Linked DNA regions of Homo sapiens: regions 1 and 2 are each linked to region 3. The links come from fine-mapping of genetic effects on gene expression. A gene starts in region 3. Each other region holds a variant in brackets. All regions are shown on one strand. Distances are from middle to middle. Region 1 overlaps MPDZ (multiple PDZ domain crumbs cell polarity complex component). Region 2 overlaps MPDZ (multiple PDZ domain crumbs cell polarity complex component). Region 3 holds the start of MPDZ (multiple PDZ domain crumbs cell polarity complex component).

The links. PIP is the estimated chance that this variant, and not a neighbour inherited with it, causes the effect.
Region 1: its variant is the best candidate, but not a certain one, in a credible set for the expression of MPDZ in tibial nerve (GTEx, PIP 0.64).
Region 2: its variant is the best candidate, but not a certain one, in a credible set for the expression of MPDZ in fibroblasts (GTEx, PIP 0.88).

Annotation. Positions count from the first base shown.
Region 1 is chr9:13,124,883-13,127,648 of GRCh38, reverse strand. MPDZ (multiple PDZ domain crumbs cell polarity complex component) reads left to right here. Exons shown (of 47, transcript NM_001378778.1): 33 at 877-969; 34 at 1,059-1,133; 35 at 2,259-2,433. Among named protein-coding and RNA genes, the nearest start is that of MPDZ, 150 kb to the left of the region's middle. The variant A/G (reference allele first, on the strand shown) is at 1,592.
Region 2 is chr9:13,105,480-13,108,245 of GRCh38, reverse strand. MPDZ (multiple PDZ domain crumbs cell polarity complex component) reads left to right here. Exons shown (of 47, transcript NM_001378778.1): 47 at 1,135-2,539. The coding sequence ends at 1,281. Among named protein-coding and RNA genes, the nearest start is that of SNORD137, 130 kb to the right of the region's middle. The variant A/G (reference allele first, on the strand shown) is at 1,647.
Region 3 is chr9:13,278,266-13,281,031 of GRCh38, reverse strand. It overlaps MPDZ (multiple PDZ domain crumbs cell polarity complex component), which reads left to right and starts at 1,340. Exons shown (of 47, transcript NM_001378778.1): 1 at 1,340-1,632. RefSeq lists enhancers at 1,717-2,432, 2,433-2,766.

The DNA.
Region 1 (2,766 bases), 150 kb after region 3:
ATGTCACAGCCATGACCATAAACATCTCTGATGGCACATTTAACTTGTGTGTATATTTCAGAGAAACCATGTCAAGATTCTCTTTTCTTTTCTTTGCTTTTTGTAACTTTTCTCTGGAGAAAAAATTAGAAGGTGGCTAGCTCTGGCAATGAAAATGTTAAAAACTCTGTTTTAATTTTATTAAAGTAAACATTAAAGAAAGCTAAAAGCCAATATTTCTGAACATTTGGTTTTGATAAAGGGAAATGTGGAAAATGTAGCGAAGTAGGTGTAGCTCCCCAGCCTTGGCAGGTTCTCAGAGCTTGTCTTGGGACTGAGAGGCATTTTCAGTCTGCAGCAGATTGAAATGCTGTTGTCTGGAGAAACAAGTCTGAGTGTTCACCCCCCAAAAGGACAGAGTCTGCATCAGTAATGGCAGACTGCCTGCTAAAGGAAGAAGAGGGGCAGAAAAGAATGAAGGGGCTAGACCCTGTTGTTATTTCCAAGCGACAGGCCAGAGAAGAAGCGGGATTCTTTGGTTGGTTTTGAATGACTTATTCAGTCATTAGACAAAATTTGTAAATGCTGAATGTTTTGGTTGAATTATTGAATGTATTTTTGCTGTCTAGATATTTTGCTAAAGTTACTAAAGATGTCAGACATATGGGAAGAGTGAAAACACTTGAATGTTTGATGGAGGAAAATTTATTCCCATTAGGAAAATTTGAAAGTTTGTTTAAGAAAAGACAAGATTTCTAAGATCTTAGATTTAAAGTCTAAGGTCTTAGATTTCTGGACTTCAGAAGAGTTTTAGTTGTTTTTCTTACCCTTGGTATCCATTTGGATAAAATTAATCTGTTTCAAGTCTTCTGAGCATTTTTGTTTTTACTTTTCTAGGATCAGGGGGGTTTGGGTATTGCTATCAGCGAAGAAGATACACTCAGTGGAGTCATCATAAAGAGCTTAACAGAGCATGGGGTAGCAGCCACGGTGAGGTTTACCTTTCTTGCTGTCATTAAGTAGTTGGGGAGGGAATTACTTTTGGAATATCACTCAAATTCTTCTACGTTTCCATTTAGGATGGACGACTCAAAGTCGGAGATCAGATACTGGCTGTAGATGATGAAATTGTTGTTGGTTACCCTATTGAAAAGGTAATTTTCCAAAATAAAGTAAATGGTAATGTAGGCCCATCCTTGGGCATGATTAAAGTGTTTGTGTCTGCGATCATAGAGAATTAGGGTTATGTAGCTGTATTAGACATGTTCTTAAGGAAAAGAAGAGATTGTTCAGAAGTTCTTCAATTTCTATTTCTTATTTTCCAGTTGGTGTTAAGGTATTTTTCGTTGCCACACAAATTATTCAATATTCACTGGGCAGTTTTGATAAATATTTCCATTTTTTCCTTAGGAAAACTTTAAACTCCTTAACAGTGACTGTTAGTGCCAAAATATTTTTTAATGAATGTTTGCTGTTATAAATATCCATTGTGTATACTACTTTATAAACAGATTGTAAGACTCAACCATTAAATACGTAATTTTTATTAGGGTTAAACATATCTTGTACTTGAGTTCCCTCTCCTCAAAAGAGATCTTAATACTTATTTGGT[A/G]TCTCATTTGAGGCCTTTTATTTATTAGTGCCAGAAAAAAGCTTTGTTTCCTTGAAATATGGTATGCTTTTTCTTTCTTATAGTGAGAGAGAACCATATAACTTATCATTTCTTCATTGTACAGTAAGAAGCTTAAAGTTACTTTTTAAAAATTCAGTTTTTAGTAAGTATTTAGGCCAGATCCTTTAACCCATAAATCTGTGTTTTAACTTTTCGTTTACCTTGACTTTTTTGTTGTATACTTTTCTTATTCTGCTTCTAACATATGTGTTTCTATTTTATTAAAACTGTTTGTGTAAGTTGCTTCTATAGAATCAGGAAGTAGGTAAAATAACCCATATATCTTCTAAGGTTGTAGGCATTCAGAAAAACGGATGAGATTAGAGATGTAAAAAGTTGAAAGTCTTATATAAGAAAAAAATGTGGTCAGAGCTAGACTTAGAGTAGAAATTAACCATGGCCCTAATCTACATCAAGCATTTGGAAAAGCTAGAGAGAAACTAGAGCCATTTCTTTCTTTACCCAAGTCCTGACAAAGAAATAATTTGCATCTGTCCCTCCCCTTAACCATAGAGAGAATTAGATTCCATTGATAATGGTGACTCATTGGTATGTCTACTAATTCAGCTTTGAATTTTGTTTCTCTTCCACACATACACCCTGCCAGTTTATTAGCCTTCTGAAGACAGCAAAGATGACAGTAAAACTTACCATCCATGCTGAGAATCCAGATTCCCAGGCTGTTCCTTCAGCAGCTGGTGCAGCCAGTGGAGAAAAAAAGAACAGCTCCCAGTCTCTGATGGTCCCACAGTCTGGCTCCCCAGAACCGGAGTCCATCCGAAGTAAGGCCTCTGGACTCATGAGAGTCCTGCACATATGGAACACCTGAACTCAGCAGAGGGTTTCTGCTTGGGAGCCAGCTGCCTACCTGTGGCTCACTGTTTGGAAGGTTGTAGTCAGGGAGCCCTATGGTGAGGGCAGGATATAAAGAGAGGACTTCTGGAAAAAGAGTACTGGACTGTTAGGCAGGCAATCTATGTGCTGTACATTAAGCAGCTGTGGCATCTTAGGAAACCTACCCACTCAAAGCCTCAGCTTCTTCATCTCTAAAACAAGGGAATAGTATTCTTTGCTCTCCAAAAATATATTGCTAAGGGCACCTTGATTCCAGGCCT
Region 2 (2,766 bases), 170 kb after region 3:
GTCGTTTTTCAGGGGCTACAAAATTCGACAAGATTTTCTGCAGGGAAAAATTTAGAATCTCAAAATTTTACAGTGTCAAAAGAAACAAAACTTAGTCAAACGTGTTTAAAAATTTGATACAGGGCCTTTGGATTAGTGGTATAGTTCTTTATGGATATTTTATTTTATTATTTTGGAAAAGATCTTTTTTTTAGCCAATTTAAAGTGTTGTACCTACAACAAGCTAGCTATAGGCTTAATTTATAAGATTTTTAAAAAAGCTATCGGTATGTCCAAAAATACAAACAGCATTTGCTAGTGAATAGAAGAGTCATACAGTCCTTTTCCTCAGCCTAGGAACAATTTATTTAAGGCATGCTAGTTAGAACATATTTTAAGAATTTCATCATTATGGATTCCTCATTAACTTTTCCATATTTTTAATTTTATATTTAATTGCATAATTGTCTTCTATAAGCGTGCTTTAAGATGGGGTTCTTTTTCTAACACCAATGTCTGTATTTAATCTTAATCATTTAGGGTCCATAAGGAATATGAAGAATCTCTCTACCCTTGGGAAGTAAGAACTAAGACAGCTTGAATAGCTTTTTCAAAACCACAAAAAGAAATAGCAGTGGGTTTTAAATTTAGAACTTATGCCTTATCCTGCCATAGGGAATGTTCAGGTGGCTTTGTGCTTTTGCAGACCTTTGGATTTTGTCATCCCCCAAGCCCTTGTCCTGTAAAACTGTTTTTGTTCCTACCTAATCCTTTACCTTCTTTCTGTAGGTCTTATTTACAGGATAGAAAATCCTGGATTCTATTGAATCATTCCTACTAGGCAAATTCCCAAATATTCTTTATTAATTTGTGTTCCCACCAACTGCTGTGCTGAACAGCCAAAAACCCATCCAACTGATCTATCGACTGCTAAATTCTCTCTCAAATTGGTATCTCAATGCTAAAACCATTTAGGAGAAAGACCTTCTTTGTCTATGTTCATCATTGCTTAATGGCTTAGAGCACCCATGGAGCACTGGGAGCAGTGTGTGTGTACAAGCAGAGCAATTTACATTCCTGTTGAGATCTTTTTCTGTTGTGAGTTGCAAGGCAGCATTTTTTGAGAAATAAACAAGTCTACTTTATAATTTGCAGGGAGCAGCCTCTGAAGACGGACGTCTGAAAAGGGGCGATCAGATCATTGCTGTCAATGGGCAGAGTCTAGAAGGAGTCACCCATGAAGAAGCTGTTGCCATCCTTAAACGGACAAAAGGCACTGTCACTTTGATGGTTCTCTCTTGAATTGGCTGCCAGAATTGAACCAACCCAACCCCTAGCTCACCTCCTACTGTAAAGAGAATGCACTGGTCCTGACAATTTTTATGCTGTGTTCAGCCGGGTCTTCAAAACTGTAGGGGGGAAATAACACTTAAGTTTCTTTTTCTCATCTAGAAATGCTTTCCTTACTGACAACCTAACATCATTTTTCTTTTCTTCTTGCATTTTGTGAACTTAAAGAGAAGGAATATTTGTGTAGGTGAATCTCGTTTTTATTTGTGGAGATATCTAATGTTTTGTAGTCACATGGGCAAGAATTATTACATGCTAAGCTGGTTAGTATAAAGAAAGATAATTCTAAAGCTAACCAAAGAAAATGGCTTCAGTAA[A/G]TTAGGATGAAAAATGAAAATATAAAATAAAGAAGAAAATCTCGGGGAGTTTAAAAAAAATGCCTCAATTTGGCAATCTACCTCCTCTCCCCACCCCAAACTAAAAAAAGAAAAAAAGGTTTTCTAATGAAAATCTTTAAAAATACTGTCAGTATTTTAAAATTTTCAACAGTATTATAAAAACATTGCATCTCCCCACCTCTAATATGCATATATATTTTTCCTGCTAAAATTGGTTTCTACAATTGAGTAAATGGCAAATACATGAAGCAATGTCCCTAAATTTTATAAAGAAATTATATTTAATGCACATTTCAATTTTCATTCTTATTTTTGACCTTTTGTAAAATATTTTCATGTTGCTATAAGTAAATGATGATGCCACCCCATGTTGACTATGGTTTTTCTAGAAAGCAACTATGCTGCTAACCATAGAGGAACATAGAAGGGTTCCAGAATCTTTAGTGCTGGTTTTAACAACCGATGCAACATTAAAAATGTGTTAGTGTGCTGTGCAATTGGTTTTCAATTCATATTAATCTTAATGACAGAGAACAATGTGTTACTAATTATTTTGGTTGTATGCCATTAGTAAATTGATAGAAAAATTAAGGGGATTAACATAACTTCATTTCATTGACTTATATTAACATCTTATAATACAATAGTTTAAGACTAAGGGAAACAGATGGAGCTGTTTATTGAGACAACTGGTGAGGAATTATCATGTGTTCATTCCCATTTTAGAGCGTGAAACTCCTACATTAGAATATATAAAGTCACTTTAAATATCTATATTTGTAACAGAAGTAGTGTACAGATATTTTATTACAGCATTTTTGTGTAAATGCAGAATTAAAGTGAATAAATAAGAATTTTCAGTGGTGCACAAATAAGCAGCAAGCATTTTTTTTGTTCTTTTTACTGTGGAAAAGCTTTGTTATATACTGTTCAAGATTTACAACTTAAAATTGGTTTTTATCATGTCTAACTGCACATATGGTGTCCATAGTTACAGCTAAAGGAACTTTGGACAACATCATTATGGAAAGCTTAATATTTTTTACCTCCACAATTTTTTCTAGCACTAAAGATTCATAGACTCCTCATAGATGAGAGG
Region 3 (2,766 bases):
GTTTGAGACAAGCAAACAGGGAAGCCAAATAAACACTTGAATATATGGATAAATCTGAAGGTATAAATGTAAGATTCTGTAGGTACGAGATCATAAGCTAGAAGTGAAAATGTATTTAGAGGTAAGAGTTAAAAGGAAAAGAGGGCCCGTAACTGATTTTTAAGGAATTCCAGCATCTAAAGATTGGGGGAGAGGAGGCAAAGAAGACTGAAGAGTGGCCTGGGGACAGGGGCAGATCTACCTGGAAATTGATGTAGCTTAACGTTCCGGGTCCTTCTCTTGCCTGGGAGCAACCCTAGCAATGTGTTTACATGGGCATTTATTTTTTGAATTTTTCTAAAGAAAGATTTTTTTTTTTTTTTTGGTTAAAGCAGAGCTCCCAATTGTACAAGCTTCAGAGCCCATACATCCGCCCTTGACTAAGCGGAAGAAGCAAAACCAAGAGTGTGATTGCATGGAATTACAAGAGGGGTGGGGTGGGGAGGACTCTAGGAAGAGAGAGGTCAACAGCTGTGAATGTGTTTGAAAGTCCAAGGAATATGAGAAAAAAGTATTTTTATTCAGAATATTAAAAGAAATTCTTTTAAATGTTCTAAATTGGACTTCTGAGTATCCTTTGGTCCTATAATCTAATATCAGAGGGATATTTTGAAAAAGAGTTTCTTATGCAGAAAAAAATTCGTGGGACTTCCAAATTGAGGATAACAGAAAGAAAATCTTAAGTGGCACAAAATAGAAATGAATATCTGTTCTTCCTGGGGCCATGCAACTCTAATAACTTTTCCATGTTTACTGTTTTTGCTTTTTAATTGGATCATCAGACTAAGAATGCACCCTGATGTGCGAAAAGTTACTTAGAAAGTGAGAGGACTGCCCCCACCCTTCTGATTAAAGCGCTTCTCATAAGCATCCTATGCCATTCAGTAAGCTACCCATGCAGAAAGCATCCACAGGGCAGTGCACATAAGGAAAATCTGAGGAGCTAGAAACAGGCTATCAGTTTCCGCAGGTTGACAAAATCGGCAGATAAAAATACAAGACTGCCATTAAATTTGAATTTCCGATAAACAACGAAGAACTTTTTAGCATAAGTACGTCCCAAATATTGCATGGGATATACTTGTACTAAAATTATTCCTTTTTTTTTTTATTTGAAATTCCCATTTAACAGAGCAGCCTATATTTTATCTGACCACCTCACAAGTCCACTACCCACACCCCAGGTCGAGCGGCCCAGGAGCGAGTTTAAAACCCCGCACAGGCCTGCTCGGCCGCGTCCCCTGATTGGCCAAGGCGCGCCCGCCGCCCCGCCGGTCGCAGGCGTCACGGCAGCCCCAGCAGCCTGGGCCCCGCCACCGCCTCCGCGGCAGCCCCGGTCGGCGCAAGTGCGGCGCGCGCTGGGGGAGGGGGCGCGGCGGAGCGCTAGGCTGGCGTCGGGCCACCGCGGGATTAAGTTTCTCAGTCACGCGTGAGTGTCTGTGCGTTTTGATCCGAAGCTCCTCGCCGGGTCGTTACTTCAGAAGAGAAGACAGTGAGCGTGGGCGAGGCGAGGCATCCAGAGGCCCCGGCGACCCCTGCTCCCCAGTCCTCCGCCCCCTCGCGTCGCGGCCCTGGGCGGGCGCCGCGAGCCGGGTAAGCGGCGCTTGAGCCCCGGCCCAGAGGCCGAGGCGCGCCCCCGCGCCCTGCGCGCGCGCCGGCGGGGAAGGTGCGCGGGCGCCCTGGGCTCGGCGCTTGGGGGTGGGGGTGGGGGCGGGGATGGGGGTGGGGGTGGGGGTGGGGGTAGGGGTGGCGGCGGGCCGTGGGGCGGTGGGGCGGTGCGCTTGCCCCACCCCGCGCGGCCCGGCGCTTCGCGGAAGCCGCTGCTGTGGCTTTTTTAAAAGGATGGGGTCTAGAAGTTTCCTTTGCTACTCGCAAGTCTCCACTCCCCCCAGCCCCGCGGTGGATAATCCTAGACCTTTCAGCACCCCCGCCACCCCTTTCTTTTGCTCTCGCTGACTAAGAGGTTTAAAAGTTTTTCCTTTTCCTTGACCCAGAGGGGCACAGTCTTGGTGTCGGGGGGCTGGGGGTGGGGTGTTAGCCTGGGGGCCCGGAGCGCAGACCAGGCCTCCAGGGCGCGGGAGCCTGTTGCTCTCCCCTGCAGGGGCCGCTCCCGGACGCCCCATCCGCCGTTACGTGGTCCCGGGATGTGCGGGTTGCGGTAGAGAGTGGGCAGCAATGCTCCTGGTCCTGCGTTCTCGCCTTAGCCGCGGGGACCCCGAGGCGAGCCGCTAATTGGTACCGGTGCCCCGTCCCTCACCCCTGGCACCGGCGCCCTTTTAACCGCCGCTCCCGTTGGTGGGAGCACGTTGGTCTTGTCTCTCCCTTAGTCTCCTCACCCCCCGCGCTGATGGGCGTCTTTGTCTGCGATTTGGCAGCCCCAGGATGCCGGATGTTACCAGGGAAGCGATGTTTGGGAGACGCTTTGTGTCTTGCGGAGTTGCGCGTTTGTTGGGTGGTGATGGTGTACATTTTTGTTTGCGTTCTTTGCAGAGGCACAAAGGCTGGGCTATTCTTGCCTGCAGTCACATGGAAATCAAGCGGAGACTGCGGGGGAGGAGAAGTGGCCAGGCGCCGGCGGGAGGTAGAGGCCGCTCCGTAGTCACTGGGGGCGAGTGGGGGCCCCTGGAGACCTCTACTGCGCGGTGCGGCTTTTGAGGTGCTCCGCTTGGGAAGACCCCGGCAATGGGCACTGACTGCCTTTTTGCAGTAGGGGCTGCGGTTGGAGGC